2 linked regions of the Homo sapiens genome follow. The protein of the gene in region 1 purifies or fractionates together with the protein of each later gene. This does not show direct contact. Each region holds a gene or a part of one and is shown on either strand. Other genes may lie near its edges. The genes, in order: FOLH1 and GLG1.

Region 1 (2,836 bases):
CTAATGAAAAATATAAAGTAAGAGAATTATAGAAACTTAAAAAAAAACTGTTACATTCCATTTGGACTACTAGCCATGTGTTCCACAAACATTTTCTATTTTATATAATTGCCTATCTCATTGTCTTAACAACATGAAGACTAAGATGTGAAAGGGGGATTAAGCATGTGGTAAGAGTTATACTGGGGGCAGCTAACCCAAGGGAGATCAGATGTGGCTTCAGATTCCACATACACAGCTACATTTCCTCACTGAGGCAGAGCAAGTTAATCCAGAAAGTCATATCAGGCTCCAAGAACGCTGTACTTAAACCATTCTGAAAATCACTTGAAACGATATAATTTTAAGTAACTTTTAGACTTAAATCTGGATCATTATACCGAGAGATCAATTTAATTTGTTTGGTAGTTTGTTCATTTTCACCCTGTTAATTCCACAGAGGACTCGTCATTTACATTAGGTATACCTCCCAATGCTATCCTTCCCCCCTCACCCCACCCCACGACAGGCCCTGGTGTGTGATGTTCCCCACCCTGTGTCCAAGTGTTCTCATTGTTCAATTCCCACCTATGAGTGAGATAACGGGTGCAGCACACCAACATGGCACATGTATACATGTGTAACAAACCTGCACGTTGTGCACATGTACCCTCGAACTTAAAAGTATAATAATAAAAAAAAATTCCACAAAGGAGGAGGGCCGACTTTTCACATACATGTGTCCTCCTTGCAGGACTTGAGTATGCACAAATTTTGGTGTAGAGGGTGGTCCTGAAACCAATCCCCGGAGATAACTAAATTCAGTTTTGTTCTGAAATTTTTATTTTCTGAGTAGAAACATATTTTCATGAAGTTATAATTATATTCATTTTCTTTCTCAGCCCAATAGTATTAAGAATGATGAATGATCAACTCATGTTTCTGGAAAGAGCATTTATTGATCCATTAGGGTTACCAGACAGGCCTTTTTATAGGTAAGAAAAGAAAATATGACTCCTTTCTGTAATATCACTTTTTCTTCTAATTATTTTTATTTTTTTCACTGTGGAAAAAATATTGTAGTTGATTTCTTGCAAGCAAATAGAAAATTTCAAAATATATGTAGTAAGTGATAGTTGTATTGTTTCTTCATATAATGTAATATGATTTTTGCATATCTTTATTTTGAGTATCTTTGTTCTGATTATAAAAGAATATAAATTTATTTTAGAAAATATAGAAGATCCAGAAAGCCATGACAAAAAATAAAAATCTCCCCAATTTTATCAGAAAAATATAAAATCATTGTTATATTCTGGTGTGTATAATTTTAGCTCCTTTTCTATTTTAAATATATTTTTACTTATGTATACACAGAACCCAAACATCTCTCTATATATAATGTATATAATAAATATATATTTATTTATTCTTTTCCCTAATGTTGATATTTAGATATTTTATTTCCTCCTAAATCCTGACAGTTGGATTTTTTTCTGCCAAACATTGACTGTCCCCAGGTTGATCTTCTAAATATTGCAGAATGAGATAGATCATTGGACAGCCAGAAATGGCCCTAACTTTCTTTCTAGGGATTATCAAAGGGTCGGGCTTGGGAGTAAGAGCATCTTCCAAGCAGGTTGACTGGATCAGATCACCAGTAGCAGCATATTTTTATCCATCCCCCACCCCCCCTTTTTTTCCTAAGAGACAGGGTCCCACTCTGTCTCCCAGGCTAGAGTTCAGTTGTGCAATTTTAGCTCACTGCAGCCTCAGACTTTTGGGCTCAACCAATCTTCCTGCAGCAGCCTCCAAAGAAGCTAGGACTACAGTCACATGCCACCATGCCCAGCTAATATTTGTACGTTCATTTGTAGCGACAGGGTGTCCCTATGTTGCGCAGGCTCGTCTAGAACTCCTGGCCTCAAGCAATCCTCCCACCTTGGCCTCCCTAATATATGGGATTACAGGCATGAGCTACTGCTTCTGGCCTTATTTACATCTTTACTATGGAGTTTGTCCTTCTCTTCTGTGGGCTATTACATGAACTGTCATAGCCCATTCTATAAAACATTTTCTGCCTTGGTCACATGGAACATTACAAAATTGTTTTTGATGATTCTTCAAACTCTATATTAAGTATTCTAACATGGTAGTGTGACTTTTTAAAAAAAGACAAAAAAAAAACCACAATAGAGGGTTGGCTGATCACAAGCAAGACTGTAATGATTACAATTGTGCTATAATATAGGGGGTAGCATGATATATTAAAAAATCAGCAGTTACTTGTCGTGTGCCTTGAGACAAATCATTTAGTTACTTGATCTCTCAGACCTCAGTTTCCTTCTCTGTGAAATACTAATATCAACTGTGTAGAGTTTATTTCTAAACATCAGAAAAATTGCAAGTAAACATTAAATACCAAGAATGATTGCTGTGGTTACTATCATCATTGTTAGTTTTGTAGCACTGAACCACTTTAATTTATTTGTTTGAAATAAAAATATAATTAATTACTATAGATTTCATATAATAGTCTTCAGAGATGATTGAACTTGGAAGTTCAGTTGACAAGTGGCTTGTTCAAATTGTTATAGGAATATGCAATCCAGGAATTGCAGAGTGCTCTTGTGTTTCTCTTGTATATCATTTGGGCACCTAATAAACAGCAAACGATTTTATCAACAGGCATGTCATCTATGCTCCAAGCAGCCACAACAAGTATGCAGGGGAGTCATTCCCAGGAATTTATGATGCTCTGTTTGATATTGAAAGCAAAGTGGACCCTTCCAAGGCCTGGGGAGAAGTGAAGAGACAGATTTATGTTGCAGCCTTCACAGTGCAGGCAGCTGCAGAG
Region 2 (3,831 bases), on another chromosome or scaffold:
AGGTGAAGAAAACAGCAGGTGGCTAATCTTTAAAACCAAATCCTTGATTACCACCTGCTGACTCTACAGAACAGCCTTCTAAGTCTTTAAATAGAATGGTCTCTCCATCCTTACAACAAAGTACTGAAAGTAACTTGTGTACACTTCCACTCTGCCTGCTGGTTTGCATTAACAGCTTTAACCATCAGAGCCACTGATGTAAGAGTTTCGTTAACTCTAGCATACACTTGTAAGAAAGAAGACTCAGAGGCTGGGTGCGGCGGCTCACGCCTGTAATCCCAGCACTTTGGGAGGCCGAGGCAGGCAGATCACTTGAGGTCAGGAGTTCGAGACCAGCCTGACCAATATGGTGAAACCCCATCTCTACTAAAAATAAAAAAATTAGTTGGGCAGGGTGGCGGGGGCCTGTAATCCCAGCTACTTGGGGCTCTGAGGCAGGAGAATTGCTTGAACCCAGGAGGCAGAGGTTGCACCGAGCTAAGATTGTGCCACTGCACTCCAGCCTGGGCAACAGAGCAAGACTGACTCTATCTCAAAAAAAAAAAAAAAAAAAAAGACTCAGACTCTAACACTTCTCTTGGTTCCCTAATTAACAAAATACATCTGAGAACAAATGACAAACTCCAAATATCATGGGAATATTTTTTTCGTCTTTACTGCAGTCACTGTTTTTGTTAAAAGCCTATTAAATTTTATAAATGGAAGCGCTGTTTGTCCAAAGGTATGTACGATTATAATCGTTTAATAGAAAGCTCTATATGAGATTGTGGATAATGTTCAGCATAACTATTTAGCTAAAGTAATAATAATGTGTATGTTCCATCTTATAGACACAAGCTGGTGAGGGCAGAGTGTATAAGTGCCTCTTTAACCATAAATTTGAAGAATCCATGAGTGAAAAGGTAAGTATTATTTTGAAACTAATGAATGTTTTATTTGTTTTTTAAAAGCTTTCTCAGCCAGACACGGTGGCTCACGCCTGTAATCCCAGCACTTTGGGAGGCTGAGGCAGGTGGATCACGAGGTCAGGAGTTCAAGACCAGCCTGGCCAAGATGGTGAAACGCCGTCTCTACTAAAAATACAAAAATTAGTCGGCCGTGGTGGTGGGCGCCTGTAATCCCAGCTACTCGGGAGGCTGAAGCAGGAAAATCACTTGAACCCAGGAGGTGGAGGTTGCAGTGAGCTGAGATCGCACCACTGCACTCCAGCCTGGGTGACAGAGTGAGACTCTGTCTCAAAAAAAAAAAAAAAAAAAAAGCTTTCTCAATTTCTCTGAAACAATATTTCTTATAATCTTATACCGAAACGTAAATGACTGATAAAGCTCACCGCTTTCAGAGGTGAGGTACTTGGGTTTTAAGCATATTTGGCTGAAACCAAGAAAATGAAACCCTGATTGTGATATCTAGATAGTGAGAAGCCAAGTAGGGTTCTCACTGTGGTGGTTTTTTTAGGTGTTTTTGTTTTGTTTTGTTTTTGTTTTTTTTTGAGTGGAGTCTTTCTCTGTCACCCAGGCTGGGGTGCAGTGGCATGATTCGGCTCACTGTAGCCTCTGCCTGCCGGGTTCAAGCAAGTCTCCTGCCTCAGCCTCCCTAGTAGCTATGACTACAGGCACCTGACAACACGCCCAGCTAATTTTTGTATTTTTAGTAGAGACGGGGTTTCACCATGTTGGCCAAGCTGCTCTCAAACTCCTGACCTCAGGTGATCCACCCGCCTCTCACTGTGGTTTTATATAAAATCCTCAGTGTGATTTTATATAAAATTCTCAGATATTACTTTGTTTGGGGAGTAAAATCAGAGAATTTTATATAAAACCACACTAAGGCCAGCCCTGCCTCCTCAAGAAGTTTAGGTTAACCAAATCAATGTGCTTTCTAGGCAATTAGCTATTTAATTTTTCAGCAGCTATATCATTAAGCATCCTCTTTTAGTTCTTTGTCCCTGAATGAATGCAAGAATAGTTGATGGCTTTTGAAATAATTAATTTTGCTATCTTGTCATTTACTTTCCTGTGTAGCTGAAGAAATGTTTCTCATTTCCTTTTTCTTGTATCATTTGAACAATCTTATTCAAATCTTATTATTCAGATGATATAGAATAATTGAATAATTGTATTTTAAAGCATTGAACAGAATATCCCAAATGTTATGTTAGTTGCCAGTTTGATGCTAGTGAAATTTATGTTCGGGGTATTGTTAAAGTGGAAAAGAATGCTGTGTGTCAAGTTAACATATTGGGATCTGTGAGATATTTACATGTTTTGGATAGCTGCTATTGCAGCAACAACTAGCAAGTGACTACAGAATTTCTAGGTTCCCCACCCACTTACCCCTGTCTCATGCCACACTAGTTTAGCTCAATTGTGAACATTTTAACCAAACTTAAAGATAGATATGTTGGTAATAACTGCAGTTGTTGACATGTACTTGGCTGAGTCGCTGTGCTCATCTTAGTGGTACACGTCAACAGTAAAGTTACATGAGTGGTCTCACGGCTGTTGCTGTACTCTTTCCTCAGTGTCGAGAAGCACTTACAACCCGCCAAAAGCTGATTGCCCAGGATTATAAAGTCAGTTATTCATTGGCCAAATCCTGTAAAAGTGACTTGAAGAAATACCGGTGCAATGTGGAAAACCTTCCGCGATCGCGTGAAGCCAGGCTCTCCTACTTGTTAATGTGCCTGGAGTCAGCTGTACACAGAGGTAGCATTCATATTTTTTTTTTAATTATCATTTCTGTTCCTTTTTGGATTCACACTCTAAAGCTTTATATATATAAACGTTAGTTTCCTCCCATATTTGCTTCTTTGAGTATTTTTCTTTTTTTTTTTTTTTTCTTGAGACGGAGTCTCTCGCTCTGTCGCCCAGGCTGGAGGGCAGTGGCGCAATCTCGGCTCACTGCAAGCTCCGCCTTCCGTGTTCACGCCATTCTCCTGCCTCAGCCTCCCAAGTAGCTGGGATTACAGGCGAGTGCCACTGCGCCTGGCTAATTCTTGTATTTTTAGTAGAGATGGGGTTTCACCATGTTGGTCAGGCTGGTCTCGAACTCCCAAACTTAGGTGATCCGCCCACCTTGGCCTCTCAAAGTGCTTGGATTATAGGTGTGAGCCACCGCACCTAGCAATTTTTTTTTTTTTTTAATAGAGATGAGGTTTTGCCACGTTGGCATCCCGGGTCTCAAAACTCCTGCCCTCACGTGATCCTCCCACCTTAGCTCCCAGAGTGCTAGGATTACAGGCGTGAGCCACTGTGCCCAGCTGAATAGTTTTCTTGTCTTTTCTTTTTTTTTTTTTTGAGACAGAGTCTCGCTTTGTCACCAGGCTGTAGTGCAGTGGCACAATCTCAGCTCACTGCTACCTCCGACTCCCTAGTTCAGCCTCTGGAATAGCTTGGATTACAGGCACGCACCACTATGCCCAGCTAATTTTTGTATTTTTAGTAGAGATGGGATTTCACCATGTTGGCCATGATAGTCTCGATCTCCTGACCTCGTGATCTGCCTGCCTCGGCCTCCCAAAGTGCTGGGATTACAGGCGTGAGCCACTGCGCCTGGCCTAGTTTTCATTTTTGAAATACACATTGTGCAACATTTTGAGGAGACTCAGGGTAGCATGATTTAGCACATGGGTCAGACTTGGCTTCAAATTTTGGCTTTATCACTAAACAAACCGTCTGGGTGACCTGTTTTTGTTTTGTTTTGTTTTGTTTTAATCTTTTTGTTTTAAGTTTTCCTGGCCAGGCGCGGTGGCTCACGCTTGTAATCCCAGCACTTTGGGAGGCCGAGGTAGGCAGATCACGAGGTCAGGAGATCGAGACCACGGTGAAACCC

Evidence for each region.
Region 2: the proteins of FOLH1 (region 1) and GLG1 purify together in Homo sapiens (affinity purification with mass spectrometry; one large-scale study listed by BioGRID and IntAct). This does not show direct contact.

The regions. Positions count from the first base shown.
Region 1 is NC_000011.10:49,146,777-49,149,612, reverse strand, and holds part of FOLH1 (glutamate carboxypeptidase 2), read left to right. Parts: intron 1-881; coding exon 882-974; intron 975-2,667; coding exon 2,668-2,836. UniProt on the Homo sapiens protein: Has both folate hydrolase and N-acetylated-alpha-linked-acidic dipeptidase (NAALADase) activity. Has a preference for tri-alpha-glutamate peptides. In the intestine, required for the uptake of folate.
Region 2 is NC_000016.10:74,491,831-74,495,661, reverse strand, and holds part of GLG1 (Golgi apparatus protein 1 isoform 3 precursor), read left to right. Parts: intron 1-830; coding exon 831-902; intron 903-2,521; coding exon 2,522-2,705; intron 2,706-3,831. UniProt on the Homo sapiens protein: Binds fibroblast growth factor and E-selectin (cell-adhesion lectin on endothelial cells mediating the binding of neutrophils).